Regions from separate parts of the Homo sapiens genome. Here regions 1, 3 and 4 are each linked to region 2. Evidence: fine-mapped expression QTL. A gene starts in region 2. Each other region holds a variant in brackets. All regions are shown on one strand. Distances are from middle to middle. Region 1 holds the start of LOC107987103 (a long non-coding RNA gene). Region 2 holds the start of ERCC6L2 (ERCC excision repair 6 like 2). Region 3 has its middle 83 kb from the start of ERCC6L2. Region 4 has its middle 130 kb from the start of PTCH1.

Region 1 (8,108 bases), 64 kb after region 2:
TGAATCTGGCCCTGAGCTGACCCAGCGGCCTAAGGAGGGCTGCCTTCCACGCCACCCTCTGCAGAGGGGAGCTGACAGCGCCGGAACACACGGGCCTCTGCCGGGGTCTGCTTTTGCTCGGATTCCCCACCTGTGCTCCAGGCAGAGCTTCCCGCCACCCACTTTGCAAGCCTGCTCGCTCCCCCACCTGTACAAACACAGGGCTTCCTGTCACCACGTGGCCTAGCAGCGCAAGGCCGCGGATGGGGAGCTTCGAGTTTTTAATTTACTAATGAGAACGATTGTAGACCTGGAAAACAGCTGTTATCCCAGGGGCCACGACACAGTGTAATTCAATTGCGTCTTTATGATTTCTGTCTTGTCCTTTGCAATTTCCCACAAACCTGAAACATGTTTGGCTACTCACTTTCCATCTCACCGCGATCACAAGACTTAGCACTCAGAGAGACTCTTACAGCATGGAATGGTTTTTACTCCCTAAGTACCAAGTGGGAAGTAATAGGATATGGACTTATTCATGCTGTCGTGGTGCAATGTAAGGACGCTGAGTCTGCAAGGATAGATAACTCATTTCCAAATAGGGTCCCTCCCACGTCCTCTGTCACCGCTATTATTAACCATTTTTTAAAAAAAGAGGCTGATGTGTCATAGTAGAAAGAACATGGACTTCGAAGTCAAGACAAAAAAATGAGTTCCAGTCCCACTTGTGCGTTTACCTGTTATGTGGCCTTGGACCTTGCCTGCTCTTAGTTTCCTGGTCTGTAAGATGGAGCCGGATACCGACTTCATAGGGCACGAGGAAGATGAACGGAGACAAGATGGGAAACAGCGTGGCTCGCACAGCCTGTAGGTCATGGGTAGCCTTAGCGCAGGCTCCCAGCTCCTCACCCTGCCTCCGCAACAATCCGAACACTCCCACTCTCTCTCCATTCTGATCCATTGTACACCACGGTCAGATGACTCATCCCAAAGCAGCGTCTTGTATATATCACATTTCCTTCTCTCCCCAACCAAACCACACCCCTAAACAACAACAGAAACCCTTCGAGGTTTCCCAATGCCTTCAAGATGTGCGAATCCTTTAAGTCGGCATTGATGCTCAACCGAAATTTAGAGTCCATTTACCGCCTCACAGGGGCCGTTATTACTCCTATACCTGAATCCGCTGCGCTACACAAACTCATTGCTCTCTGAGTGTGCCAGATTCATGCCAGGCCCGTCTTTTCCCCTGCTCCCCACGTTCATGCCGCTCCCCTTGCAGGGACTGCTTGCCCCTCCTTGGCATTGTATATTTTCTTTAAAATGCGGATAAAGTCCCATCTCCTCCTCTCCCATCCCATTGGCTATTTAATGTATCCCACCTTGCTTTGTTGTTAGTGACCTGTGTATGTAGCCAGCAGCGCCTGGCATAGGCTCTGTAGAAGACGTTCAGAAACGTGAGGTAATGACTGCAGGTATAAAAGCACAAATTTAGAAATGCCTTTGAAACCAACTGGAATTCAACTCATAACAATTTTCTCCCATGCAATTTTGAAATATCAATAGCCAGACTAAAATTATCAAGCTTTGAGTTTGTGTATTGCTCTGTGTGTGTGTGTGTGTGTGTGTGTGTGTGTGTGTGTGTGTTTAGGGAGCTGCATTTAGTGGTTTAGCTTCACTTTATTCAGCTCCAAGTGGGAAATAATTATCTTCACTTCTTTCTCCTGCTACTCGCAGCTGATAAGCTCTCATCAGACCACGCTGATTGTTCAAGCAACCAAAATCATACCGGAATTTAGGAAAGATAATTGAAGAGAAGATAAGGTTGACAATTGTTGACCAGTTTCCTCTCTTTAACTTTTCTCCCAGACTCCCTGCATAGTTTAATCTTCTGTATTTTGTGTGTCTTTTTGCTAAAGCAGCTTAGCCTGTAATTTCATCCAAAGCCTTCCAATGCCTTCCCAGAGCCACTTGAAGGCATTGGGAAACCTCAGAGAGTTTCTGTTGTTGTTTAGGGGTGTTGTTTAGCCTGTAATAAAATACACCAAAGAAAGTGGTCTTCTCAGAGCCCCCCAGCAGCTGGGGGGTGCTCTGGCTAGTTGGCAGTGAAGGACATTGAGGAAGGAGGCTCTGTTTAAGCTCTAAACTTGGCTGTTTAGATTCCAGGCATTCTTGATAAGTTATACCTAAACCAGTACTTGGACAAGGACCAAAGGATTATGCATCAGTGCCATACCCAAGATATTTGAGGATTCTGTCAAATTGAAGATTGACTAGTGTCCATGTGTAATGATGTAGTCAAGAGAATATTGAATTGAAGCAATTAAACAGTAATATCTTGAATTCATGTTTTTGAAAAGGCTGTTAACTAAGTGTCCATTTTTCTGCCCACCAGGAAGAGTTTGAAGTTTGAAATCCCAGAATGAGGAAATTCATCCAGCTTGGAGACTTCCAATCCCTTCATTGTGCAGAAGGTTGCTAATGCTCTCAGGAGAAGCCCTTCACCAAGAGAATACTTCCACATAGAGTCCTCTCCATTGAGACTAAGGAAACATGCTATGTCATGTAGCCACAGCAGCCTTTGCAGCTGTTGAAGGCAGCAAGACTTGCATGGCAATCAGAAGACACAGAACCAAGACTCATATCCAGTTATAAGATGGCAGATGGGACACACACTCATCAGGCTTAGTGAGCAGCCAATCCAGAGGGAACCATACTCAGCCCTAGGGGCTGGGCGCGGTGGCTCTCGCCTGTAATCCCAGCACTTTGGGAGGCCAAGGCGGATGGATCACCTGAGGTCACGAGTTCAAGACCAGCCTGACCAACATGGAGAAATCCCATCTCTACTAAAAATACAAAATTAGCTGGGCATGGTGGTGCATGCCTGTAATCCCAGTTACTCGGGAGGCTGAGGCAGGAGAATCACTCGAACCCGAGAGGCAGAGGTTGTGGTGAGCTGAGATTGTGCCATTGCACTCCAGTCTGGGCAACAAGAGTGAAACTCTGTCTCAAAAAAAAAAAAAAAAAAAAAAAGCCCTAGGAAGATTTCTTCAAACAGATGAAGCTAATGATATCCCCAGTGTGTTTGAATATATTGAGAGATCACACAATAGGGACACTGTTTAGGGTTGAATTAATAGCAAGCAAATGGGATGCTAAGGAAATATAAAGAATAAAAGTTCAAAGGGAAAACAAAATGTTATTCAAGAAAGTCAAAACATCCATCGTAACTTTTTTTTTTTTTGAGACAGAGTCTCGCTCTGTCACCCAGGTTGGAGTGCAGTGGCGTGATCTCAGCTCACTGCAAGCTCCGCCTCCCAGGCTCACGCCATTCTCCTGCCTCAGCCTCCCGAGTAGCTGGTACTACAGGTGGCTGCCACCACGCCCGGCTAATTTTTTGTAATTTTAGTACAGATGGGGTTTCACCGTGTTAGCCAGGATGGTCTCGATCTCCTGACCTTGTGATCTGCCTGCCTCAGGCTCCCAAAGTGCTGGGATTACAGGCGTGAGCCACCGCGCCTGGCTCGTACACTGTTTTATATACCACTTGCAGTATCATGATTGTATAAATACTAAATATCTATTGATCTATCCAAAACTACAACATAAGTATTTTTGGAATATGGAGGAGTGGGTGCTGAGTATGCATGGGAGAAGGGAGGCTGAGGTGAAGGTGGGAGAGAAGGAGACAGTGAAATATTCATCTTCCAAATTGGAAACTCAAATAGATAATGCCTAAACATGAAATATCAATAGAAATGTAATATTTAAACATATGGTGGTGCTTCTGGGAAAAAGAAAAGAGGATGGAGAAGACTGTTT[G/T]TTTGTATGTTTGTTTGTTTAAACAAGCAATATGGATGAAATTACAGGCTAAGCTGCTTTAGCAAAAAGACACCAAAATACAGAAGCTTAAATGAGGTAGGTATAAGTTTCTCTGTTTGATATGATCTCAAGAGAAGCAATCTGGGTTGGAAAGTCACCTTTATGATCCTCAAAACGTAGCTTCCACCTGTGGGACTAAGGCAGCCATTCTAGTTTTGTCTTCCCAGCCAGAGGGAAGGAGGACAGGGTCAGGAGAGCACATGTGCATAACTGATAGGAACATGCCCCAGAAGGGCCACACATCCATCGGTCAGGATGTGGGCATAAGGACCACAGCTGCATGGGAGGCTGGGAAGCATAGGGTCTAGCTGTTAGCCACGTGCTCAGCTAAGACACTGGAGCCCTGATATTAAAGAAGGTGAGGAATGATGCTAGTGCTCAACCAGCAGTCTCTGTCACATCAGCTTTGCAGAATCATTTGATTCTTTCAACTAGGTGCATATACAACTTCAATACAAATGAAAACTAAATATAAGACATGGTTCTTAAAAATCATCTTTTGTACAATTGAGGACACAATCAAAACCCAGACACCAGGGTCCTGAAGCAGAATGCAGGCATCCACAGAAGAGGCGGTGCTGATGGACTGGACCCCAGAGAGTCCACACCTGCTTGGTGCCATACCTTGGGTCCCTCCAGATCAGGATGCTCCCAGCAACTTTTCTAGGATGGTTATACTGCACATGCTGCAAAGATGAGTGGGCATCCCTGCAAGCCTATGGTTTTAGAGTAAATGGTTCCAAAAGAAGGTATGAAGCAGACCCATAGATGGGGATTAGTGCATAGGAGGTTTATTGGGGAGTACTCTTGGGATCAACATCTGTGAGCAACGAGAAAGAAGCAGGATTGAGCAGGGAAGAAGGTGGGTGTTCTGGAGCTGAGATCAAACTTCAGAAGTGTTGTGGCAAGGGGGCCCAGTATTGGTGAGTCTTTCAATGTGACTGCTCCAAGAACTCACAGCTTGGGGGTGTCATCTCAGGTGAAGTTGTTGTGTTCAGCCTGGGCAATTCTGGAGAGGCCTGACAAGTGAGGCCTGCCCCTGCAGAACTCCTGGCAGCTCAGGGAACACATTTTTCATTCCTGAGATGTTGCTTCACAGCATCTACTCTGTGTGGATCCAAGGAGCTGCCTCTGGGTCTCTGGGAAATCAGTCGTTTGAATTTGGATTCCAGCGTGTGGCTCTTACATTTCTTTTTAGGAGAAATCCAATAGTGGTGCTCTCATTATGATGACAGAGGGGCTGGGAGGTGCCAGGGGCCCAGCAGGGAAGTGGCAGGAGTACAGCAGCATACTGTGTAACCTGGGCTAGGTTTTTACTCAAGGTGGCTTAGGACAGCTTTTGAAGATTACAGGGAGAAGAACCTAAAATATAGGCAAACCAGATGATAACTACCCTGCTTTCATCTGTGCCTCAGGGTGATTAGTCAGCATTTGTTGGTTAACATGTCAAGAACCCTGTGATTTTGTCAAATATATATTTGGTCTTTGACTCCATTTTCTGACATACAACTCCTAAAATCCTTATAATCTCCAAAGTGATAGTGTCTTTTTGTATGCTTATGAGTTGACTAGTGGCTGACAGCCTCTATGTAGCTTCAGGACAGGGACTGGTCACAGGAAAGACCAAGGCAGCATTAGAGGGTCGGGACTCTTAGCCCCCTACTCCCACCTCCAGGAACCAGAGAGGGTGGAAAGGTTGTTGACCACCAATGGCCAATGATGTAATCAATCCTGCCTACAGAATGAAGCCTCCATAAAAACCCAAAAGGACAGGGTTTGGAGAGCTTCTGCATAGCTGAACACACGGAGCTTCCTAGAGGGTGGCACACCCGGAGAGGGCATGGAAGCTCCCTACCCCTTCCCCCGTATCTCCCTCTAAGCATCTCTTCATCTATATCCTTTGTAATACCCTTTATAATAAACCAGTAAACCTATGTTTCCCTGACTTCTGTGAGCCACTCTAGTAAATTAATCAAACCCAAAGAGTGGGTGGTGGGAGCCCCAATTTGAAGTCAGTTGGGCAGATGTTCCAGGGGCCCCAACTTGTGACTGGTGTCTGAAAGGGAGATCAGTTTAGGGTACTGAGCCCTTAACCTGTGGGATCTGAGGCCATCTACAGGTAGATAGCCTCTGAATTTTTTTTTTTTTTTTTTTGAGACAGAGTTTCACTCTGTCGTCCAAGCTGGAGTGCAGTGGCTTGATCTTGGCTCACTGCAACCTCTGCCTTCCAGGTTCAAGCGATTCTCCTGCCTCAGCCTCTCAAATAGCAGGGATTGCAGGTGCATGCCATCACGCCTGACTAAGTTTTGTATTTTTTAGTAGAGATAGAGTTTCTCCATGTTGGCTAGGCTAGTCTCACACTCCTGGCCCCAAGCAATCCTCCCGCAAAGTGTTGGGATTACAGGCATGAGCCACAGAATTGAATTGAATTAGACACTCAGCTTGTGTCTTCTGCTTGGTGTCTGGGGAAACCCCCACATTTTGTCACTGAAGTCTTCTGTGTTCACTATTTTTTTTTTTTTTTTTTTTACGTAAGAGCAGAGGAAAAACTGTGTGAGTTTAAGTAGTTGACTCACAAACCCTAATCTTAATTTAGGTTCCAGAATGGCCCAAGGCAAAGGTTTTAAATAGTCCTTCTCCATCTGCCCTAGAGGGTTTATTTGTTATCACAGGGGTTGTTAGAAGGAAATTTTCTTTGAAGAAATGAGTGATGCTAAGGCATGTAGTTGGCTGAAGAGACTTCCACTGGCACCTCCTCCCTTGATCTGGCAAACCCAGCAGCTGACCACCTTTGGAGTGACAGAATCTCTCTCTCTTTATGGATAGAATTCTGTCCTATGGTCCCCACCTAATGGAGAGCCACCTATGTCATCTCTGTCACCTACTCTGATGTTAAAATTTTGTTGTGACCACAACAAAGTAAATATTTCCTGCAAGATGCTTTCCAAAGTACCTAAAAAGACAAGAGAATGAGAGGAGGAGGTTGCATGGCTATTTTTGTACTTACCTCCCAATAAATGTTCGTGTGTATGAGGCAGAATTTGGTCTGAGACTTGCTTTCATTTAAAAACAAGTCCTGGTGAGGTAGTGGGAGGGAAAGGACCTAGACCTTCACCTCCTTCTAACTGCTAGAGGCTACCAATATTTTTTAAAAGAGCCTGATATTTGTGAATGGCTAAATAAGCCCAGAGATTAAGAAAGTAAATGATGCCTCATATTCTTGCTGGTTACATGTTCCAACAATCTGAACAGTAAAGATACCTGAAAAAAATGATTATCAACACATTGGTTTAGTGCAGTGATTGATCATAAAAGATAAATGATCCAGCTGTAGAAATTGGGAATATGATATATGATAATGATAGCAAGGCAAACCTAACCTGATTATTCTAGATATTCATTTGTCATTTACATGGTGTCTGCTACTGGACTTGGCTTTGGGCAGGCTCAGGTTCTAGAAGAGTCTTTCATGCCCCCAGTGATCTGTGGCATGGCTATGGACAATCCCTGGGTTTAACTCCTATGTGTGAAAAATCTAGAGGATTCTAGTGGCCGAACATACAGAAAAGTAAATCCAAAATCTAATCTTGCTTTGATTTATGTGGTTGGAAGCGGGGAGGTTTGGGAAATGCAGTCAGACAAAAGTCATCCCATCTAAATATTAAATGCAAGAGAATTAAAAGGAGACAGAGAATAGAAACCACTGTCAATATGTTGCGAATCTGACAACTCTGGGATTAGACATGATTTTCCCATGTTCCCTCACACAAACCCTCCATTCAGGCCAGGCCTTTGCTCTTTCTATCCCCAAGAGCTTGCCCACCAATTTACACCTTGGCTCATGAAACCTAGGTTGCCCTCCTCTATTCACAAACTCTCACCACCCTTCAGCTATCCCATCCTCATGTATAAAATGCCTCCCCAACTCCTGTTAGCCAGTGTTGATCTCTTCCTGTAAACTCTGTTAACTTTGCCACTTATATATTTCATACTTTTTCTTCTTGAGATTCTAAGTCCCACAAACATTTACTGGGGCAGGCGGACCTTGTAGTCTTGTGAGACTATGGACAGATGAGGACTGTCCATGGTTAGACATGATTAGTGAACAATCCTATACTGGGAAAACACATGCTTAAATGGGACAATACTGAAGTATTATTTGCTGCATTCTGGACTTCTTCCCTTAATCTGCATTTTTTTCTGGGCAAAAAGCCAGAATGGCCCAAGGCAAAGGTTTTAAATAGTTC
Region 2 (8,108 bases):
CTGACTAAAATATTCTTCCTGACTCATGAACATATATATATACATATATTTCATGATATGGTAGAGTAATCGTGAATAGGACTTGGTAATGAGTAAACTAAAATCCTCTGGACAGCAATGCTTTGTGGTTCATCTGTCTTTTTTACAGTTATTCCATTGCCTTTCTCTAGAAACAGCTGTTTCTTTTCACTGCAATATTGTTGCCTCTAAGCCTTTACTTTAACCACTGCTTGTATACAGCTAACCATGGGAACCTCCAATTCAACTACAGTGATGTCACAGCTTTTCCTCTTCCGGGTTTTGAATATTTACTTTAAGAGATGAATTCTAAGATCTCTTTCTGCAAAGATCCTATTACACTTTAAAGAGTATTACCTCTCTCTTTATGAACTTATTCTGTGACTAACCATACAGCTATTTTATTTTCCCAGAAAATATACCACTATGAATGAGGAGGGAGTCCACAGTATACTATTGGTACAATTAAAAAGTATCAAATAAAGAAAACTAAGTAAAAATAATTTTCCAAATGGAATTTCTTATGGCAAGAATCCAAAAATAATTCTATGGCTACAAACATAAGAACACTAGGAATTATTTTTCCTATACATTTCTCACTGAGATCAGATAACCACTGGCAGTTTCCTAGGGTCTTCCTGATGACCTCCAGTTAGATATTTATAACTACAACATGACATGTTTATACTATCTAAAGCAAGAATAGCTCATTAAATTCCTCATCCATCAGTTGTTCCTTAAAAGTAAAGCCACTAACTTTGATGAGGTTATTTTACCATAACAATAATGAGTACAGAGGGAAAAACCTTCTCTCCCACTCTACTCTCTGGACCCAAACTGTTGACAACTGTTACACCATTCTAAAAGAGTGTTTTAATGTCAAACTAAAGCCTCGATCCACTGTACAAGTAGAACAACATATAGGTCAATGGGCCCAATTTTCATAACAGTACTATTTGCACCTTAAAACCTAAAGCAACCCTTACAGCAATTCTTAACACATTACTTATATTTCCCATTATGTGTTTGCCTACCCTATCATTTCTTAAGACTTATTTTATTATCTATTATTCAACATATGTGATTTAAGCACAAATTATTCACCAAATATTATACCACACAATGGGTATAAAATGAAGAAAACTAATGTCAAAAATGATGGTGACTAATAGTCTTCCTGCATCTTATTAACTGGCATCATCTCAGAGAAATGCAAATCAAAGCCACAATGAGATACCATCTCACACCAGTTAGAATGGCAATCATTAAAAAGTCAGGAAACAACAGGTGCTGGAGAGGATGTGGAGAAATAGGAACACTTTTACACTGTTGGTGGGACTGTAAACTAGTTCAACCATTGTGGAAGTCAGTGTGGCAATTCCTCAGGGATCTAGAACTAGAAATACCATTTGACCCAGCCATCCCATTACTGGGTATATACCCAAAGGACTATAAATCATGCTGCTATAAAGACACATGCACACGTATGTTTATTGCGGCACTATTCACAATAGCAGACTTGGAACCAACCCAAATGTCCAACAATGATAGACTGGATTAAGAAAATGTGGCACATATACACCATGGAATACTATGCAGCCATAAAAAATGATGAGTTCATGTCCTTTGTAGGGACATGGATGAAACTGGAAATCATCATTCTCAGTAAACTATCGCAAGAACAAAAAACCAAACACCGCAGATTCTCACTCATAGGTGGGAATTGAACAATGAGAACACATGGACACAGGAAGGGGAACATCACACTCTGGGGACTGTTGTGGGGTGGGGGGAAGGGGGGAGGGATAGCTTTAGGAGATATACCTAATGCTAAATGACAAGTTAATGGGTGCAGCACACCAGCATGGCACATGTATACATATGTAACTAACCTGCACATTGTGCACACGTACCCTAAAACTTAAAGTATAATAAAAAAAAAAGCTGGCATTTAAAAAAAAACAAAAAACTGGCATCATCATCTAACCAACTTTTCAAGGTAGAAAACCATTAGTCAGCCCTTAAACCTCATTTAATATTACTCCTTACATCCAATCCATCAGAATATCCTGGTTCTACTTCAAAAATGAATCACTTTCCTCCATGCCACTATCTCTCTAAAGCAAAGGCTGGCAAACATTTTCTCTAGAGTCAGTTATTAGCTATTTGTTACTTTAGATTTTGTAGGCCATACAGTCTCTTGCCCTTGTAATGCAAAAGCAACCAGACAATACATAAACAAATGGGCACAGTTGTGTTCCAATAAAACTTTATTTACAAAAAAAAGTGTCAGACCAGTTTTAGCCCACAGGCAGTAGTTTGCAGACCTCTGTCTTAAAGCATGCCACCATCAACTTTCCCTAAATTATGCCTAACCAGTCTCTCTGCTCCCAGTCCACCTATTTAGCGTAGGGTACCCATTATTCTCTATCTCATCATTTTATTGCCTCTGTAGCACTTATCATAACATTTAATTATCATGTCCACTGGTTTTTTGTCTTTTCCTTCCAGTAGAGAGTAATTTCCTTTCCAAGAAAAGTTTGTACTGTTATAAATTTTATCCCCAGGACCAACACAGAGTCACACAGCAGACATTCAGTGAACATGCGAATTTATTACACATTCTTTTTTTTTTCTTTTTTTTTTTAGACAAGAGTGTCTCTGTCGCCCAGTCTGGAGTGTCATGGCACAATTATAGCTCACTGTAAACTCCAACTCCTGAGCTCAGCCATCCTCCCGCCTCAGCCTCCTGAGTAGCTGGGACTACAGGTGTGCACCACCATGCCTGGCTAAATTTTTTATTTTTAGTAGAGACAGGGTCTCGCTTATGTTGTCCAGGCTGGCCTCAAACTATCCTCCCGCCTAAGCTTCCCCAAAGTACTGGGATTACAGGTGTGAGCCATGCGCCTGGCCTATTACAAATTATCAATCTCACAAATCCTTGATATCTTGCGAGAAAACTAAAAAGTACACCAACATATACATAACTGTAAAAACTGCATTGGAAGAAGAGTGCTATGAGAAGGGAGTATTGAGAAATGTAATTTAAAAGGGAAAGGGGTCTAAGAACTGTATCTCAGATAAGTGTACAGCATGTGCAAAAAAAAAAAAGCCTTAAGGGAATCACACAACTTATTGGAGTATTTTGGGTTTGAGTTCGGATAATTTCTAGGACGAAATAAATTCAGTTGAGTTAGAAATGGAATCTCTCAGTATCCAAACTACAGAACAACTGCTTAAATTGTTAAGATTTCCTGTTGGATTTAACAGGGAAATGGGTTAAGTGTCCTAAAATTTAATGAGTCGAAATCATTTGTTTTGGTTTAAACTAATTACCAACTCAACTCATTCTGGTGATAGGGTCTCTCTCTCCCTCTTTCACTCCAAAGGCCTCCTCAAGCATTCCTCAAGGGTGTTCCCACCTCGGGGCCCTGGAGCTTTCTGCTCCTTCCACCAATTTCCCTAAATACCAAGAGTGACTAGATTTATCAAAAGGAATGAGCCTCCCAGTCACAATATCCACTCGGCAGCTTCATCTATTTTTAGCTGCCAGTCTCCTATAGGTATTTATATGTTTGGTCCCTGAATTACAGCGTCATCAATTCCTAGACCTCAGAATTCAGGCTTGTAACTTGCCCTCTCTGAACTTTAGCTCTGAATTCATCTATTTAATGAGATCGATATCTTCCTCAAAGGAAAGCAAGTAAACAATCAGCATATTGCTGGGCTCAGGAAAATCACTCAATACCTGGTAGCTTTTGTTATACAGCACAATTATTAATGAAAACTACTCATTTGGGTGCCAGAAGGCATCCCAGGTGACTTGTGGTAGATAATCACACCTTCTTTAAACCTCCTATTTAAGGCAGAATATAATGCCCTGACTCAATAGGCAATAAAACTCAACTGAACTAAATATCTCAACCTTCATTTATCTACTTACAACAAACTTCTGCCATTCACTAACAACTGGGGCATACAAGAATAAAGAATGAAAATAACATTTACTGAGTGCTTAATATGGGCCACACGCGGGGTCACATAAATACTTTGCGTATTCCCCACGTCATTTAATAATCGCAAGAACCTAGTAATGAACCCAGTTTTACAGATGAGGAGCCTGCCCAAAGTTGCTCAGCAAGTAACTGTCAGAGGCAGCACTAGATCCCAGGGGCTGACTCCCGAGTCCAGGTTCTCAACACTGAATCGGAGATTTGGTTCCAGGCCTGGAGGGGTTCACAATCTGCAGCTGTCACTGAAGAGGATCTACAGGGCAAAACCCCAACCCGAAGGGCACCGGCAAGAACTGGTCCAACGCGACGCAGTACACAGGCCTCTGCGTAAGGGGCGAGCGCGGAGCTGGTACCTTTGCCTGAGGTTTCCGCGCGGGGCTGTGGCGCCGACGGATCCATCCGGCCAGGGGGAGGGGCCGAGCCCGGCTGCATGTAACACCCGGAAGGCGGCGGAGGACAGCAAGGTGGCTGGCCGGCAGGCCAATGGCGGCCAACGCCACTTCCGGCCGCCCTCCGAGCATCGCTCTTCGGCAACCCGAAGCCACAGGATGGAGGAGGGGGATCCCAGCAAAGGTAGCGACTAAGGGGACCCAAGCAGAACGGGAGGGCGACGTCCGGAGCGGCGGCAGAGCCAGGGGACGCTGTGTGAGGCTGGCAAAGCGGTGTTCACCTAGTTCTCTCGGGCTCCGCCGCCGCCGGAGGAGGACAGGAGGCCGGCAAGGCGACCCCCAAATCTTCCTAGGCTCTGACTTCCGTCTCCTAACCCCCGCAAATTCCAACCCGGTCTTGGAAAATCCCGCGAGAACGGGCTCCCGAATTGTCATTGGGATCTCGCGAGAACGAAATCTTCCTTTCTGTGGGCGGAGCAATCTTCCCGATGTCTCTTCCCTCTGAGGCCAGTAGCAGGAAGGGCCTCGGGAGTTGCGAGTGTCGCGAGGTTTGAGGTCGCTCGGTGGGCCGGGCGCTGTGCGAAGCTAGAAATAACTGGGGGCATGGAGAATGCGGTGGCTGTAAAGGGCCGCTGAGGCGGTGGAGGCCTGGCAGAGAGCGTCCCCGCGGTCGCGGCTTCTGGCTTCTCTGTGGAGCTTGGTTCTTCCGTGGTGGTGCAGCACCCCAGGAACTTCAGGAACCAGTCCTTCCTTGGAGAGCTCCCCGGGACAGCCACGGGGGCCAAGTGAAACTAGCGCGTTTTCTTGGATCCTACACTTTATAGTGAGTCATAAATACTTTAAATACAAAGCCAACAACATTTGCTGCAAATAAACGTAAAAATACTGTTAAAGTGTAAAGTGTTTTCCTCCGTACCATCTGACGTTTCTGGCGGTTCGTTGAACGCGAGAGAACGCTGAGCCGTCTGCACTGAGCCCGGGAGCATCTTCAGGGCAGCGCCGCCCACGCGCGAGGTGAATGAAGGACACGGCCTCTTGACACTCCCAGGCAGCACAGATAGACGGATCCGTAAGTGGCTCCCGCGCATGTTAAAATTTGTATACTGTAAGGTATTTCATGGATTGAGTGAAATACCTGACAGGGCCTGTATCCGTTCCCTATTGCCACAATAACCAAAAACCACAAACTTTGTAGCTTGAAACAGCACAAATTTATCATCTGACAGACAATGCATTTATTATCTCACGGTTCTGTAGATCAGAAGTGCTACCTGGGTGTCACCCGGGCTGCACTCCTTTCTGGTGACTCCACAGGACAATCCTTAGCTTGCCTTTGCCAGCTTCTGTCCACATTCCTTGGCTTTGGTCCCTTCCTCCATCTTCAAAGCCAGTGATATGCCATCTCTCTGAACCTTCCATCCTCAAGTCTACCGCTGATTGCAGCTGGAAAAGATTCTGAGGGCTCACCTGAGTAATCCAGGATCATCTTCCCATTTCCAGGTCTCTGCCCTTGATCACATCAGCAGAATCCTTTTGCCATGTAAGCTAATATATTCACGAATTCCGGAAATTAGGAGATAAACATCTTTGGGGGATCATTATTCTGCCTACAGTAGTGTCTTAAGAAAACAATATGGCTGTTTGCAAATAGATCTCAATTCTATGGCAGATACTAAAAACTAGTAGTATGTGTTCATAAAATGCTTCATTTAAAATATGACTTGTTTGCTTACCAGCAGGCAATAACTTTAAGCCTAAGTGAAACATCTAACTCAGCCATCTATGTGTGAGTTGTTGGCCAGATCACTTCTCCGTGTTTTATTGTACTCACCTATCACCATTACAGTGAAGCTAATAATAGTAAACTACCTAAAAATGGTAATTGTAAAAAATTAGATAATTAAGTAAAACTCCTAAAACAGTAGCTGGTCATAGTAAGGAATATATGTGTTGTTATTACTATTATTATCAATGGAATGCATCCACTTGAAAGTTGCATTCTACATAGCCATTATGTCAGTTTAATATTTTGGCTAATAGGCCGGGCGCGGTTGGCTCATGCCTGTAATCCCAGCACTCTGGGAGGCCAAGGTGAGCGGATCATGAGGTCAAGAGATCAAGACCATCCTGGCCAATATGGTGAAACCCCGTCTCTAATAAAAATACAAAAATTAGCTGGGCGTAGTGGCACATGCCTGTAGTCCCAGCTACTCAGGAGGCTGAGGCAGGAGAATCGCTTGAACCCGGGAGGTCTATAGAGGTTGCAGTGAGCCGAGTTTGCGCCACCGCACTCTAATCTGGCGACACAGCGAAAAACACTACTAATTATAATTGTAATTCTTGATTCTGACATGCACCCTGATATTGGAAATCTTAAAATCTAGAAAAATCTGCTGCTTGTTATTGATGGATTATATCTCTTTTCACATTGTCTCTAAAATCAAAATGGCAAATTGAAATTTTAATCAAGCTTCTTTTTTTCCCCTACAACTACCAGGGAAGAAGTTTGATTTTTTTCCCCTCTCTGAAATGACTAGTTGTGTAATTTTGTCTTATTTTTCCAGAGGTCCATTGAGTTAAGATGTAGCTCTTGACAGAGCAGACCTCTTAATAGAAGTGATAAGCAAATTCAGAAATAAATTTTGATTTAAATGGGAGGTATCATCTGGTTGAAGGAATACCCTTGTGACTAACAAAAGAGGAGGATACCTCATTTTCTTTTTTTTTTTTTTTTTTTTGAGACGGAGTCTCGCTCTGTCGCCCAGGCTGGAGTGCAGTGGCGGGATCTCGGCTCACTGCAAGCTCCGCCTCCCGGGTTCACGCCATTCTCCTGCCTCAGCCTCCCAAGTAGCTGGGACTACAGGCGCCCGCCACTACGCCCGGCTAATTTTTTGTATTTTTAGTAGAGACGGGGTTTCACCGTTTTAGCCGGGATGGTCTCGATCTCCTGACCTCGTGATCCGCCCGCCTCGGCCTCCCAAAGTGCTGGGATTACAGGCGTGAGCCACCGCGCCCGGCCCTCATTTTCTGAGTGTTTATTATTTAACCTCACTGCTGTACTTACAGTGTATACTGAAGCAGAAATAATCATGACATGAAAATATGTCCTAGTGAACTAGTTGCCTCATAAAGTTAGACATTCTCAAATATTCCTTCCCCCAGTAGCTTTTGTCTTTGCATTGACATCCTTGTCTAGGTGCTGATATTGTGAACATCTAACGCTGTCAGACCAGTCACTTCAAAGTTAAACTGAATATCTTGTAAAATATTAAGGAATTCCTGTAGTTAATATGTGTGATGTTGGATAAATCACATGAATGAACTGAATCACATACAAAACTTTTGGCAAAGGAGGATCTAGCAAAAATTAAGCCAATTAAAACTACAAAAGAGAAAAAAATAACACAGATGGTGATAACACAGGCATTTCAAAACAGGCTCATGGAAGGATGATTAAACCCACCAATAATTTGCCAAAAAATAGTCTCTCTTTATCTTCACACTGCAAAAGTCAAATATATATCTGTATGTGGTTGACAGATCTCCAGAATTGTGAGTTAATCTAGCAAAAAGGCTCCAGAAAAAAATAGATATGAAACTCTAAGACAACACAAGAAATTAAGTCTTTTGAGTTTTAGTTAGATGATTTTAGGTTGCAGCATTTCTCCCTTCATACGTCGTTCCAGCC
Region 3 (8,108 bases), 84 kb after region 2:
ATCATCTGTATGTGAAATTGTGAGTTGGTTTTATCTTCTTAGATATGATTTCCCTTATTTTAAAAAAATCTATATGTTAAAAAACATCATTTTCTAGCAGTTTTCTGTTTCTAGAAGTAGAGACATCTTTTGAGCAAATTTTGCTTTGGTAAAATGACCAGAATGGGTGCCTTGAAAACATGTATAAAACAAGCGGCCGCTCATTAATCTTAGGGAAATCTAATCTTAATTATAGCTAATCGTAATTCAAGTCTTTCATTTACAGAGTTTGTTGTTTAGTTTATTAATTGTGGTGTAATTTTGAGTAGTACTATACTCTTGCAGATTTAGAGGGTATTTTTCTCCTAAATTCGAATTAAGGTTTGTGCTTCCTGGGAGATGTGTGTGTGTGTGTGTGTGTGTGCATATGCACGTGTGTCTGGTCCTCTGTACACATATGCTCCACTCTTGCCTTATGCGGGAGGAGATGTTGAACAGGAGCTGGGCAGGGCCTCTCACAGCACACCAGGGAGCATTATGCCAGTGCCTACACCTGGCGCTGGAGCACACCACCGATGCTCCAAACTGCTGGAAATGTGCCATTGTTTGCTGTGACTGCGTAAATGGGCCACAGACTAGCAAGAGACTGGATGAAGAGAAGCAAATCCCCTTCTGTCTCTGGGATTGAGAGCCTTGGCCTAGACCCAGGTCAGGGGGAACTGGTCAGGGGTGTGCCTTTTGATTGGAGGTATATTGACCTCTGTAATCTGCTCATCAGTTTTTATGTATCATGGCTTAGCCCCTCGACAACTTCTTTTTTTCTTTTATCTTTTTGTAAGGCAAGGTTTCTCTCTGTTGTCCAGGCTGGAGCGCAGTGGCATGATCACAGCTCACTGCAATCCCAAACTCCTGAGCTCAAGCAATCCTTCCACTTCAATCTCCCAAGTAGGTAGGACTCCAGCCTAGCAGTTACAGCTGCCTGATTTCTTTCTTTGTATTTTTTGTAGACACAGGGTCACACTATGTTGCCCAGACTGGTCTCAGACTCATGGCCTCAAGGGGTCCTCTTGCCTCGGCCTCCCCAAGTTTTGGGATTACAAGTGTGAGCCACTCTACCCAGCCTCAACTTCTTTTTAAGTGTTTTTCTATTTTCCCCACCATGAGGATTTTTTTTTTTTCATAATGCTGAAGCCCAGGAACTAATCTAGGAAAAAATAATTGTTCCCCTTTCCTTTCCTCACACCTTTTCTTTCTTTTCTATTTTTTTTTTTTTTTTTTTGAGACAGAGTCTTACTCTTGTTGCCCAGGCTGGAGTGTAGTGGCGCAATTTCAGCTCACTGCAACCTCTGCCTCCCGGGTTCAAGCAATTCCCCTGCCTCAGCCTCCTGAGTAGCTGGGATTATAGGCAAGCGCCGCCACACCCGGCTAATTTTTGTGTTCTTAGTAGAGACAGAATTTCATTGCATTAGCCAGGATGGTCTAGATCTCCTAACCTGGTGATCCGCCCACCTCAGCCTCCCAAAGTGCTGGGATTACAGGCGCGAGCCACTGCGACTGACCTCCTCACACCTTTTCAATCTTTCTCTCCCCATTCTCTTTATTCGAAAACATGAAAATCCACCATCAAGGATGGCAAAGACAGAATCACCCCACAGGACTGAGGTGGAGGCAAAGTAGAATGCCGCTTTGGTCTGGACTAGAGAGGAGACTGGGAATATCCCACATGAACGGACCTCATCTCTATGATGTTGACATAGTGTATAGTTCTTCTAACATAGCCTTTAATAAGCAGCACAAGTATCTTCTTGCCTTTTCTCCCTCTGGACGGTAAGCTCCTGGAGGCCAGGGACTTGTCCAGAGCTGTTTCTCCAATACCTGGCAGAGTTCATGGCGGACAAATGGGCATTCAAACATTGGCTGCATAAGTATTTCATGTTTCAAAAGAAAGTGACTTCTCTAGTTGTAATGGCCATCCAATCAGATGATGCAAGGGGAAATGATAACCGTTTTAAAGACCCAGAAATATAACACAGTTTTCAAAAAGACATTTCTTAAAGAAACAAAGTATGAGTAGGATATCATCTCAATTTTCTAGTGGTGTTAGAGTCACTTCCCTGAACAAGAAATGAGAGCAATGATGCAAATGAAATATGATTACAAACACATTGAATTCAAAATGTAGTGGTTCCTAGGATATCATGTGCAGATTCCCAATTTCAACATGTGTTGTTTAAATAAACGACAAAAGATCAGATCTTTTGTGACTAAACATTTATAGCACTGTATATTTTACATCTTATCTTCCCACAGCTCCCTCTTCATACTAGTTTGTTTTTATTGGACCACCAGCAGCAAATTCCTGCCATTTTATAACCTTATGACATTATTGTCATTGCTTTTAGCACAGGCACTGCTACATCTGTTAGTAAAAAAACTAAAAGTATTCTCTCATGAGTCACTAAAACACAATTGCCAAAACCAATTAAACTCGTGCCAAATATGACAAGTCACCAGAAGACTTTTAGCAATTTACAATGTTTTTGCTGGGAAAAGGAAATAAAGAAAAGAGAGAGGTACATTTGCATAACACTTTTTTTTTTCTTTTTTGCTAGTGAGCTTCAAAAGTTATAATCACTGAAATTTAGTAATGCTGACTACATCACTTTCTTCTGGTGTTTTTTACACTATCGTCCAGAGTTGATCATTAAAATTCTCGGTGGTTGGTCCTTCCCATCTCCACACTGCAAAATATTCCTATTCTTCCTGAGCTGGAGGTACTCACCAAAGATGAATGAACAAAGTATAGAAGAAGCAATGGCTGGATTTTAGGTTGAATAATCAAAGGATGGCCAGATATTTAACAAGCAATAAGGTAAACCAGCAGTGAAATTCTGCATATAAACCTGCCTGGGGATAGGAAATTTAGCTCAAATAAAGGCTAGGGATAGAGTTAAAAAGTGCCAACAGGAGAGGTATTTTCCTATCCTCACCTCAGCCAGTTCAAGATGAGTAACACATTGGCAGGACTTGGATACAGGACATCTCACTACATGTAAGCTTTAAGAGAAAAGAGTGTAAATTTATTACAGTGTGGAAAGTACAGGATTAACTAGACTACTCAATTGGCCTTATATCTTACCACCTAGATCTTTGCAGACTCATCCAGCAGAGAACTGAAGCAATTATTTCAACAAAACTGAGGCCCCAATATTTTTTTCCAAAATATTCTAAAAGTAGAGGAAAATATGTACTTAGTTAGACAATCAGTTGCACTATCCACATTTCAAATCCTGCATACATAAGTGTGGCTACTGGCTACCCTGCTGGACAGCACAGATACAGAACATTTCCATCACTGCAGAAATTTCTACTGAATAGTACTAATCAAAAGGATTTGGGGCCACAGTGGCTCATGCCTGTAAACCCAGCACTTTGGGAGGCTGAGGCAGGAGGATCACTTGAGCCCAGGAGAAGGAGGCTGCAGTGAACTATGATTGTGCAACTGCACTCTGGCCTGGGTGGCAGTGTGAGACCCAATCACATGAAAAAGAGGATTTGGGTCACTGAAAAGACAATAGAGAAGGAAAAATTCTTGGCTATTTCAACCTGTAAGAGGTGAGGAGAGTGAGAGAAGCCTGAAGATTTAGGAGTGTACAGAAAGGAAGGGGGAAATCAGGAGTATCAGAAGTCAAGGGAGAAAAAATTTCAAAAGACAGTAAAGAAACAAGAATGCCGCAGACATAAGTGAGACAGTCATTGAAGAGTACCATTGAACTTGGTCATAAGAAGATCATCCATGGCCTTCGAAAGACTCCAGATCACAGTGAGTTCAAAAATCAATGGGAGGGTATGAATTGGAACTGATGAGTATAGACAGTCTTCTAAGAAATTTAACTTTGTAAATAATTGCGAGAGTAACACTGCGCCTGGCACATCCTCTGTGTGTCATCTCCGAATCTGAAGTGTCCCTAACAAGGTGGCTTCTGCATCTCACGGCTTCATGTGGACCTAGAGATCTTATGAAAGTATCATGGAGCAAGATTGTCATAAATAGCCCCATAGCCCCACCTTGTTCCTTTGTGGTAACTTAAGCACTGGGAGG[G/A]TCAAACTCACTAAGTGTTCATATGTGGGTCTTATAAACTAAAAGATTTTTTTTTCATTTTTGGTAGCAACGAAACGAAAATAATTCAGCTAACTTTTTCACTTCAATGGAAAGGGGCACCTCACTGGTGGGAAGACAAAAGGTTATCATATTTTGCTTATTTTCCCCTTGTATTAAAGAAATAATTTTATTGGGTTTTTGTTGTTGTTGTTGTTGTTTTGAAACGGAGCCTCACTCTGTCGCCCAGGCTGGAGTGCAGTGGCATAATCTCGGCTCACTGCAACCTCCACCTCCCGGGTTCAAGCAATTCTCTTGCCTCAGCCTCTCAAGTAGCAGGGACTACAGGCACCCGCCACCACACCTGGCTAATTTTTGTATTTTTAGTAGAGACGGGGTTTCACCATATTGGCCAGGCTGATCTTGAACTCCTGACCTTGTGATCTGCCTGCCTCAGTCTCTCAAAGTGATGAGATTACAGGCATGAGCCACCGCGCCCGGTCCGATTTTAGTGTTTTATTTAATATTACAAAAGAAATACATTCTCATATAAAAAGACTTAGAAAACTCATATGAGCCAAAAGAAGAAGTTAAAATTACCCATTATATCTGTTTGTGTGCTTCAGCTCCAGGAGAAAGAAGCCCTGGCTTAAGCAATACAGACTACTACATAACAAGGAGTCCAGGGCCAGGTGGGTGGGTTTCAGGGCTGGTTTTTCCAGTGGTTCATTGATGTCATTAAAAATCCAGATTTATTTCATCTCTCTGATCTGCCGTCTTCAGTGTGGTTTTAACATCAACCCATTGGCTCTTACAATGGTGACAACAGTAGTTCAAGGTGTTACAACAAGACATAACCACATTGAAAGGAAAAAGAGAGACTTCCTCATCTCTTTTACAAGCAAGACATTTTCTTGTAAGAGCTTTCTAATGGACTCTTCCTCAAATTCTATTGGCCAGAACTGGGTGACACGCCCACTCCTTAACCAACACTTACAAATGGGTGGGATTCCTTTTTGAGCAATCAGAGAGAACCATGAAAGCAGTCAACTGCCCGAGACACACGAGTAAACAGGGCTTGGGGAGATATTGAGCCCAAAGTGACAAGTTACTCTAAAGGAAAGTAGGGGGGATGGACACAGGAGAGGCAATCAACATTATCCATAGCTAACAGTCTGCAGGATTAACCTTGGTTAACATCTGAATAAACATCCCTTCTTTTCCTGGGATTGTGTGTGTGCTTCTGGGCGTGTAATAGTACTGTATTTGCTCTCGTAATTTGGAGTTTTCCCCCTCAGCAATATATTGTGTCAGGCAGAATAAAGCTGTGAAGAAATTAAACAATACAAATAGAAATAAATACATTATGGAATTCTGCCATGCCATAAACAATCTTCTACAATATCATTTTAATGAGTACAGATATTCCATTTTTAAGAATATGGCATAATTTATTTACCAAAAAGGAATTAAAAATAAATATTTCCAAGTCTGAGATGAAAATTTTTATTTTAATTCTATGCACTGAAAAGATATTATAAAGTTAAGGTCTTACTTTCTTTGAAGGTAAGTAATAAGGAAGGAATCTTGTATTGACATTTATTTTAACAACTTATGTTTTAAATTAAAACATGACCATTGAAGCTGATGCTGTTGGACCATAGACCAAACTTTAAGAATCTAGGCAGGTGCGGCCAGTCATGACTATAGTCTCAGCACTTTGGGAGGCTGAGACAGGAGAATTGCTTGAGGCTAGGAGTTCAAGACCAGCCTGGAAATCATATAGTGATACCCCATCTCTACAAAAAAATTGAAAGCCGAGAATGCTGGCATGAACCTGTAGTTTCAGCTACTTGGAAGGCTGAGGTTGAAGGATTGCTTGAGGCAAGGAGTTCAAGACCATCCTGAGAAACATGGTGAGACCCCATCTCTACAAAAAAATAAAAAGTTAGCCAGGCATGGTGGTGTGCACCTGTAGTTCCAGCCACTTGGGAGGGTGAGATGGGAGGATTGCTTGAGCCCAAGAGTTCGAGGCTACGGTGAGCTATGATCATGCTACTGCATTCCAGCCTGGGTGACAGAGCAAATTCCATCTCAAAAGTAAATAGATAAATAAATAAATAGCAAGGATCTGCAGCAGTGCTGTTCAGTAGAACTTTCTGTGCTGATGGGAATGTTCTATAATCTGGACTGTCCAGTATGGTAGCACACGTGGCTACTGAACACTTGAAATGTGGCTACTGCATCTGAGGATCTGGCTGGGTTTTTTTTTCATTTTAATTAATTCAAATTTAAATAGTTACAACATGACTGACTAGTGACTACCATATTGCATAGCACAAAATCAGAGTGTTTCACAATCAAAAATATTCTCCCTCTTGCAAATCAAAATCACAATAAGATATCCACCTCACACCTGTTAGATTACCAAAAAGGCAAAAGATAAGAAGTGCTGGTGAGGATGTGGAGAAAAGGAAACCCTTATACATAAGGAATGCAAATGGGTACAGCCATTATGGCAAAAGGTATGGAATTTTCCCACAAAATTGAAAATTAGATCACATTTTAATCCAGCAATCCTACTTCTTTTATTTATCCAAAGGAAATGAGATCAGTATTTCAAAGAGGTACCTCCACTCCCATCTTCATGGCAGCATTATTCACCATAGCCAAGATATGAAATCGACTTTTGTGTCCAACAATTTGGATGAATGTATAAAGAAAATGTGATACATACACAACAGAATATTATTCAGCCTTTAAAAAGAAGGAAATCCTGGCTGGGCCGGGTGGCTCACGCCTGTAATCCCAGCACTTTGGGAGGCCGAGGTGGGCGAATCATTTAAGGTCAGGGGTTCGAGGCCAGTCTGGCCAGCATGGTGAAACCCTATCTCTACTAAAAATTCAAAAAAAAAAAAATTTGCTGGGCATGGTGGTGGGCGCCTGTAATCCCAGCTACTGGGAGGCTGAGGCAGGAGAATCGCTTGAACCCAGGAGGCGGAGGTTGCAGTGAGCAGAGATCGTGCCACTGCACTCCAGCCTGGGCAACTGAGCGAGACTGTGACAATATGGATGAATCAGAGGACACGGAGCTAAGTGAAATAAGCCAGATATAGAAAGACAAATTCTGCATGATCTCACTTACTTGTGGAATCCAGAAAAGTGGAGCTCATGGAAACAGAATAGAATGGTGGTTGCCAGGGGCTGGAGGAGGGAGAAATGGGAGATGCTCGTCAAAGGATACAAAACAAAGTTTCAGTGATGCAAGGTCAATAACTTCTGAAGGTCTAATGTACAGCAATGTGAATATAATAACAATACGGTATTGTATACTTGAAATTTGCCAAGAGGGTAGATCTTGTGTTCTCACCACAAAAAAAAGAAAAAAATGGTAACAATGTGAGGTGATAGATATATTAATTAGCTTGATTGTGATTTCCCACAATGTATGTGTATATCAAAACATCAAGTTGTGCAAGTTAAATATAAAAAATAAAGTAAAATAAAATCAGGCCAAATAAAAGATATTATTGTTAATTTAAAAATGTAGATTCTTCCTCGTTCTGAAAGGTATAGGTTTTCAAGTACTTCCAAAAGAGTAGAGGAAAAAGGAGAGAAGGGGCCAGAGAGAAATGAAGGTCTATTTGCCTGCACTGCATATGATAATATGCAGTATATCTCTAAGCAGAGATGCCGGCTGAGCTCTGCACGGACAGTGACAGGACTCAACCTCACCACCTGTGCCAAGTGGATCAAAGATGCTTCTTCCCACGAGCAGGGAGACTGTGCCAGCAGCCAGTGAAAAAAATGTTCTTTCTCATCAAATGAGGATGCTATAAAGTGCTGACCTGAATTGGGCTTTCCCCTTTGTTCTGTAAAGGGATGGAAGCCATTGAAAATGTATTTCCAGCTGAACTGTGGCTCATTACGCATTGACCTTGCATGGGGACCTTTTGTTCAACAGCAGAGGCAAAGTGGGCATGCCAGCCAGAGCGTAACTGTCCACCTATCTCTCTATGAAAAGTCTTTT
Region 4 (8,108 bases), 240 kb after region 2:
AAAAAAGCTTAATAAAAGCAATGCATGGTTATTGTAGATAATTTGAATTTGACAAAAATCATAAATTTTAAAAATTAAAATTATCTTTTAATCTCACCACCCTGAAATTGCCTTGTTTACTATTTTTTCACATTTCCTTCCAGTCCTTTTTCTAAGTGCATGTATCTGTGCCTATTTATAACAAAAGTTGAATCCTATTATGTGTAAAGTGTGTGCTTGGCTTTTTAAAATTAAACCTGTATGTGCCATTAAATATTTTTGGAAAATATTTTAATAACTTCTCATGTGTTCCCCAGAGATATATTTCAAGCATTTTAATTCCACAAATACATCCCAGGCACCTATCACATGTCAGACATTCTGGCTGATGTTGAAAGGGTAAAAGAGGAATGGATGTTTTTCCTGCTCTCAAGGAGCTTATAATTTTGTAAGAAATGAAAGAGCAAGCAGGCACTTTTGTAGTCCATAATACAAGGTAGGCTCAAATAAGTACAATTTTTAAAAAATACAGTGGGTTTAGGTGTGAGTACAAAGTGCATTTTTCTCCCCCTTCTTTGAATTTTCTGTTGGCTATTTCCTCAATAGAATTTGCAAATAAGTTACTATCATTTGAGGAGTAACAGAGCTAGCAAGAACGTTCTTTGCCAAGAAAGGAGAATTTTCCTCCCAGTGAGCACTCTTTGGGAGGTATTTTGAAAAATGCAGCACGTCCTTTTAAAGAGAGAGGAAATGAGGAGATTGTCGTGTCTGTCTCACCTTAGATAATAAATGCTGGGTCGACATCAGAAATTGGAAACAAATTCTAGGAAAACCTCTCTGAAGTTTCCACAAGGTGATCCAATTAAGATATGACTGGCAGCCATGAAAAGCTTTGGTCCTGCCAAACCACAGAGAAATTTTAGATGTAGAAACACAAGAAATATCTTTCTGGATAACCAAATATTTTTTAAAAGAGCCATATAGTGTAGGCTTAAACTTCCAAGACATCATTGACTATTTTTCTTGCCCTCCAGCCAAAGATAACCTAAAACAAGGGAAAACACTGGCTATCCCACGAAAGCCAGACAAGTAAACAGAAATTTGCAATGAATCTTTCTTAGCCTCCGCAAAGGCCAAGTTGAAAATCCATCTTCAGCACATTGGAATGGAATCTCTTAGGTCAACTAACAAGACCCCGCCTTGCAGGGGTGCTGACACCGAACCACTCCGGAATCTCCTGCGACATGTGCCTCCATCTGCCATCATAAAGTACTGTGTCAACTAGGCTCCAGATGCTCTGGGCATCTTCTGAATGCTTCCAACTTCCCCTGACTGCAGAGAAGACCCAGTTCCCACTCCAACAACAGCTGGTGCCATATATGATGAAACTGTCATGGAGGCATCCTTGAGTCAGATTACCCCACATGACAAGGAATGGAGGCCAAGAGAAGTCGCCGTCAAATCCCCTCCTCTTAAGCAGGAACATCACCCTCACATGAGAACCCTTAAAAAGTCAGACTCCTGACTCCTTCCCATTCTTGAGTAGTCACACTGGGGCCAAGTGGAATATCCTGGGAACCTAGGAAAATCTCCTCAAAACAGGCTACACAAATTGATTGCTTAATAAAATCTCCTCGTTCTTCTTGAAAGACATTGTTTTATGGACATTTCAATTGTATTCTTAAACCTGTCCCATCAGGTAGAACATTTTGAGATCATGGAATGTTTGTTGAGTTTTTGCTTTGTTTTGTTTTGTTTTTTGAGATGGAGTCTCCCTCTGTCACCCAGGCTGGAGTGCAGTGGTGCGATCTCGGCTCACTGCAACCTCCGCCTCCCAGGTTCAAAGTGATTCTCCTGCCTCAGCCTCCCGAGTAGCTGGGACTGCAGGTACCTGCCACCACACCTGGCTAATTTTTTGTATTTTTAGTAGAGATGGGGTTTCACCATGATAGCCAGGATGGTGTTGAGTTTTGACTGAGCAGAATTAAATGTTTCTGGAATGAGACTGGGCATCACTGAGTCAAGAGAACCACAAAGCGCATCTCCAGTCACTGATGGTGTTGGTCTTTCTCATTTCAGGTGTTCGGGCAGGCATGTCATAGTGTCTTATGATAAATTGTGCATTTCCCTGGTGGCTGATGATGTTGAGTACATTTTCATATAACCATTGGCCATTTGTATATGTTCTTTTGTTTTGTCAGTTTTTTGCCCATTTTTAAAAAATTGGGCGTCTGTCTTTTTATTATTGTGTTACAGGAGTTCTTTACATATTATTGATACAAGTCCTTTGTCAGATGTATGTGTTGCAAATATTTTCTCCCAGTCTGCAGCTTGCCTATTGATTTTTCTTGATGGAGTTTTTCAGAATTTTGATGAAGTTTCATTTACATACACTGTTTTCTTTTATGACTTGTGCATTCTGTAACCTCCCCAATAAATTTTTGCCTACCTGAAGGTCATGAAGATACTCCTCTGGGTTTTCTCCTAGTAGCTTTATTGTTTTAGATATTATATGTAAATATTATACCCATCTCAAATTGATTTTTAGATATGGTACAAAGTAGGAATTGAGGTTATAGACACACACAAAGGGATATATATATACATATATATATATGAATATCCCATTGTTTCCATACAACTTAGTAAAGAGATTTTTCTATGTACATTAAATTGCTTTCACACTCATCAAAAATTATTTGGACATCTATTTGTGGGTGGTGCGTCTCTGGGCACTCTATTCTGTCCCACTGACTGACATGTACAGGCTTCCACCAGTGCCACCCAGACCTGATGCGTAGTCTTAAAGTCAAGTACTGTGAGTCCAGAAACTTTTTTCTTCTTTTCCAAGATATTTTAGGCTATTGTTGGTCCTTTGCTTATCCAGACAAAACTTAAAATTGTCTTGTCAATTTCTGAATAAAAGTCTTCAGGCTATATAGTAAAGGCACAGAAACAAGGCTTTGCTATGAAAAACATGAAAGAAACTTTGAGGTGAATATCCTGGTGGCAAGCATGTGGGGGAGGAGAACAAATGACAAAGTAAGGAACATGAGCCAGTGTGGAGGGTGCTCCATGGACTGACATGCCCTACCCCAAGAATCATAAGTTGAACCCCTTACCCCTAGTGTAATGGTATTTGGAGGTGGGCATTTGGAAGATAATTCAGTTTGTATGAGGTCATGTGGGTGGAGCCCTCATGATGGGATTAGTGCCCTTATACAAAATCATGCCAGAGAGCTTGCATCCTCTCCCATCTCCACTATATGAAGACACAGCAAGAAGGCAGCCACCTGCAAGCCAGGAAGAGAGCCCTCACCAGGAGCCAATCAGCCTGCCTCCAGAGCTGTGGGAAATAAATCACAGTAGTTTAAGCCACCCAATCTGCAATATTTTGTTATGACACCCCAAGCTGACTAACAGGCTTTAGGCATAGAGGGGAAATTATCATGTGCCTTAAAGCTGACAATTTAATTTGATTCAAGGGGCCATTAGAACTTACAAATGGCAGATTGATCACAAGCATTATCTCCATTCCCTTCCAAAACCCCACTCAAATAACAGCAAAGGAAAATAGTAAACCCATAAATGCTAAGAGAATGGCAGAAGAGATAATTCAATCAACTTTTTGAAGGTGAAAAGCACATGAGGCAATAGTAACTAATCTAAATTTAACAGAGAAAGCTAAAACCAAGAGGCTGCAGAGGATGCCAAGGAGTAGCAAGGATTTGTTCTGCTGAGCCCTGGAAAGGA[T/A]CAGGAACTTGAGGCAATGGCTCCCATAGACACATGGGACTAAGACAGGAGCAGGGAGGCCACTGGATCCCTTTCCCAGCAGCCACAGAAGGGCAGCATTGTCAAACAGGAATATAATATGAGCCCTGGATGTAATTTTAGATTTTCCAGCAGCCACATTGAGAAAGGTAAAATTAATTTTAATAATATACTTTACTTAACCTAATATATCATTATTTCAATGTGTAATCAATACTTTACAAATTGAGATAAGGTATAATCAGTACTTTAAAAACTGAGATATTTTACTGTTTTTTGTAATGTCTTCAAAATCAGGTATGTATTTTACACTCACTGCACATCTCAATTCTGACCAGCCACATTCCCAGTGCTCAGGGACCATCAGTGGTGAGAGGTTATGGTATTAGACAGCATCAGTCTAGTGTAACACAACTAAGGAGACCCTGAGCACAAAGACTCAGGCATGGGGAGAGTTAGGCATCTGGAATGAACTGAAAACAGAAGCTCTAAATAAAAACCTTCATTCTGAACAGTGATACTCACAGCTTCCTCTCACCCCCAAACCAGAACACAAACAATGAATCTCTTCTCTCCCCAGCCCCCAGTTCAGGAGATTTGGTCCTTTTCAGTACCTTGGAAGAAAGAGAAGCAATTTAGAGGGCAAAATTAAAACTTCAGAAGTCAGTAAACTCAAAGAATTAATAGAAGATATCACGTCCCTAAAGCAGTACCAGGATACCCTAAAAATGAGGAAGATATTTTGAAAATTAAAAATAGTACAGCTAAGTAAAAATGTCAACAGAGGGTTGGATTTAAAAAGACAACATAATCCGGCAGACAGGAGGAAAGATAAAAAAAATGAACTACAGAAGAGAAAAAGATAAGCAATTAGAGGATTAAGCCAGGAGATTCAACATGCAAAGGAGTTCAAGAAAAAGACAGTAGAAAAGACACTGACAGGAAATTAACAAAGAAAAATATGAGAAAAATTTCCTGGAAGTGATATCTGACTTTCAAAAGTATGTGCATATATTACTTCGATAACATTAAAATTTATTTAAAAACAAAAACTATTATAAAAAGAAAAAAAAAGAAACCATTAGACTTTGCTGTGGTATCTAAGGATGGGGGTAATGGGGTTATCGATCCTTCATGATGAACACAATTTCTGTTCCTAGCACCTGGTAAGTATTAACTGACCAGAGCAGCAAAGCCATCGGAGAGGTTGCCTCCCTGTTTCCCACCCCACCCCTTGTTCTATGGCACTGCTTTAATGCAACAACAACCAAAAATCCTCTGGGCTTCACATTGCAGAAAATCTCTTTTGTACTTTAAGGCATTTTTGTTCACATTCAGAATCTGTGGTCTAGACATTTCTTTGGCACTTGTCATCATCATCCCAGGGAAATGGAACTCAAATGAAAGGAAGGGTGGGGAGTGCCTTAGAATAATCCCCTGGAAGAAGAAACTGCAGAGCACATTCCCGCCCTCAATAGGCAGGCCTGGCTCCAGTGCTGACTGTACCAAGGGTGCAGGGTGGGAAGGGCAAGGAGGTGGTCTTGGAATCCCTGGGACCGGGGGAGTGGCAAGGGGGTGAGTCCATGGATGCCCTCAGTGGGTCCCTGTCTTCAAGGGCTCCCACATCAGAACATGCAGAGGACTCTAAAGGCAAGGTCCAGGAATCCACCTTTAACGGGAACCCCACCCCTCCATGTTACCCCCATTCATTCTCTTGCACACCTGCCAAAATTAGAGGACCACTGGGACACATAGGAGCACTGGAATTGGAATCACAATGGTACTTCTTCCAAATGCAGACATCTGTGATCCACCCCCAAATGTATTAAATGAAAATCTGCTAGGCACAGTGGTTCACCGGGTGTGATGGTGTGCACCTGTGATTCCAGCTACTCGGGAGGCTGAGGTGGGAGGACCGCTTGAACCTAGGAGGCCAAGGCTGCAGTGAGTTGAGATTGCACCACTGCACTCCAGCTTGGGTGACAGAGCAAGACCCTGTCTCAAAAAAAAAAAAAAAAAAGACAAATATATATATATGTATATATAAAGAGAACAGAGTGCTGAGAGTGATTCTCATGTGCTCCTCTACTTAAAAATCTCTGGATCGATGGCTCTCAAACGCATATATATTTTAGAATCTCCCAGGAAATATTATAAAAATGAAAATACCTAGGTTCCATGTCTTCTGAGTTGTGCAGTCATGAGTGAGGCCCAGGAATCTGCATTTTGACTGGCTCCCCATGATATTAGATGCAGGTAGTCCTGAGAGCTCACTGCTGAAAAACACAGCTGTATGCTCTGGAGCTTACATTTGCCTCAGACCACATCTCCAGAAGACCCCTTTGGTGTGCACCCATCTTCCTCAATGGGCTGAAAGAATCTTACATGGGAATCTGGGTTCAAATATCCAGATACTTCCCCAGCAAACACTCATCCGATTGCACCTACACTCACAGCTTAAAACAAGACAGGTTGAGAACTTTAGGCTCAGGACTTTTTACCCCATTTGCTTCTTGCTGACCTTGAGGATGTGCGGCTGGGAGAAGTACTTATGTTGTCCATTTATTTAAACCATCTCTGCCGGAAAAAAAAATAGGCTCATCATATGCTTGGGACCTTTATGTTATGACGGTGGGTGGTGTGGCCATATGTGTGAGTATATGTATGTATTACACAAATGCCTCTATAGACAGTGCTCAGGAATTGGATCTGTGCCAAGGGCAGATATTAAGGAGACATTTGATTAAGATCAAGCCCTGCCCAGTCATTTGAAGTGTATGTTAACAAAGAGTCAGGAAAAGGGGTCTGAGTGCCAATTCTCCAAGAACATGTGGAGGGCAGCCCCAGCTTGTGTGTGTGCTGTCCGGGAGGCAAACAACACTCCCTACCCAACTGCTGGAAACCAGATGAGAGAGTGGCCGTGCCACACTACTGCTGCAGGCGAGGGAATGGGCTTCTTGAAGAAAACATTTTGGATAAGTTCTAGAGGCCAGATAACTGCTCTGGGGAAGTTCAAAGACCTGCAGAGAGAACACAGCTCTCCCTAAAGGCAAGCGTCTGGTCATCGCTTCCCCAGGGGCATTCTCATCGAGGCCAGCACAGCTCTTCATGGAGAATCAAGACTGACAGGAATTAGAAAAATGACCAGAATGAGGCTGTCCGCAGGGTTTCCAAACAAGACAATGCTGCCTGGGCCCAGTGCCTCTGCCTGCCCTCCTGCTTCTAAAGGAGGGTGCCCCACAGGCTCTCAAATCTGGGCCCTTAATTAATCCTCCTGTGTCTCCAGTGCTCTGCATGTGAACAGCAGCAACGATCTACAAAGAAGCACTTACACCTAGAACACATTTACTAGTCCGTTCTCACACTGCTTTAAGGGAATACCTGAGACTGGGTAATTTATAAGAAAAGAGGTTGAATTGGCTCATGGTTCTGCAGGCTGTACAGGAAGTATGGCAGCATCAGCTTCTGGGGAGGCCTCTGGGAGCTTTCAATCACTGCAGAAGCCAAAGGGGTGTGAGGTGTCTCACATGGTGGGAGCGGGAGGAAAGGGGGGAGGTGCCACATACTTTTAAATGACCAGGTCTCACGAGAACTCACTCACTATCACAAGACGAACAGGGAAATCCACCCCCATGATTCAATCAACTCCCACCAAGCCCCACCTCCAACACTGGGGATTACAATTTGACAGGAGATTTGGGCTGGACACAGATCCAAGCCAGATCAACACACAAGGACAATCATCATACTCCGAAACACCTTAGGCACTAACGGGGTTACAAATCCATCTTTCGCATGGGATGTTAATGATCTGGGGAGGGCTTCTATTTGGGAAAGGTGGGTCATACAATGAGAGACAAAGTACTGAAGCTGATGTTTCCTGGCATTATGGTGGGGCATGTACACGTTTTTTTTTCTTTTTCTTTTTTCTTTTTTTTTTTTTTTTTTTTTTTTTGAGATGGAGTCTAGTTGTGTTGCCAGGCTGGAGTGCAGTGGCGCAATCTCAGCTCACTGCAACCTTCACCTTCCACCTCCAGGTTCAAGCGGTTCTCCTGCCTCAGCCTACCAAGTAGCTGAGATTACAGGCACACACTGCCATACCCAGCTAATTTTTGTATTTTTAGTAGAGACAGGGTTTCACCATGTTGGCCAGAATGGTCTCGATCTCCTGACCTTGTTATCTGCCCACCTCGGCCTCCCAAAGTGCTGGGATTACAGGTGTGGGCCACCATGCCTGGCCGTGTACAAGTTTTTAAAATAGAAAAGAGTGCAGCAATATGACAAATTCAGTCAGTCAAACCAGAACTCTCCAGGGTTTATCAATGCAATCTGATTGCAGTTAGAATTTTGCAGTGCAC

What was found. PIP is the estimated chance that this variant, and not a neighbour inherited with it, causes the effect.
Region 1: its variant is fine-mapped to the expression of ERCC6L2 in blood mononuclear cells (TOPMed, PIP above 0.99).
Region 3: its variant is fine-mapped to the expression of ERCC6L2 in whole blood (INTERVAL, PIP 0.96).
Region 4: its variant is fine-mapped to the expression of ERCC6L2 in CD4 T cells (BLUEPRINT, PIP 0.95).

What each region holds. Positions count from the first base shown.
Region 1 is chr9:95,808,189-95,816,296 of GRCh38, reverse strand. It overlaps ERCC6L2-AS1 (ERCC6L2 antisense RNA 1), which reads left to right. Exons shown (of 3, transcript NR_023390.1): 3 at 2,375-8,108. It overlaps LOC107987103 (a long non-coding RNA gene), which reads right to left and starts at 958. Exons shown (of 2, transcript XR_001746851.2): 1 at 717-958. The variant G/T (reference allele first, on the strand shown) is at 3,802.
Region 2 is chr9:95,872,361-95,880,468 of GRCh38, reverse strand. ERCC6L2 (ERCC excision repair 6 like 2) reads right to left here and starts at 4,778. Exons shown (of 19, transcript NM_020207.7): 1 at 4,385-4,778. The coding sequence starts at 4,430. ERCC6L2-AS1 (ERCC6L2 antisense RNA 1) reads left to right here and starts at 4,492. Exons shown (of 3, transcript NR_023390.1): 1 at 4,492-4,604. RefSeq lists enhancers at 4,568-4,627, 4,688-4,917, 4,049-4,923, 5,058-5,157, 5,198-5,247 and 1 more.
Region 3 is chr9:95,788,649-95,796,756 of GRCh38, reverse strand. No RefSeq gene overlaps it. Among named protein-coding and RNA genes, the nearest start is that of ERCC6L2, 83 kb to the left of the region's middle. The variant G/A (reference allele first, on the strand shown) is at 4,082.
Region 4 is chr9:95,633,484-95,641,591 of GRCh38, reverse strand. No RefSeq gene overlaps it. Among named protein-coding and RNA genes, the nearest start is that of PTCH1, 130 kb to the right of the region's middle. The variant T/A (reference allele first, on the strand shown) is at 3,733.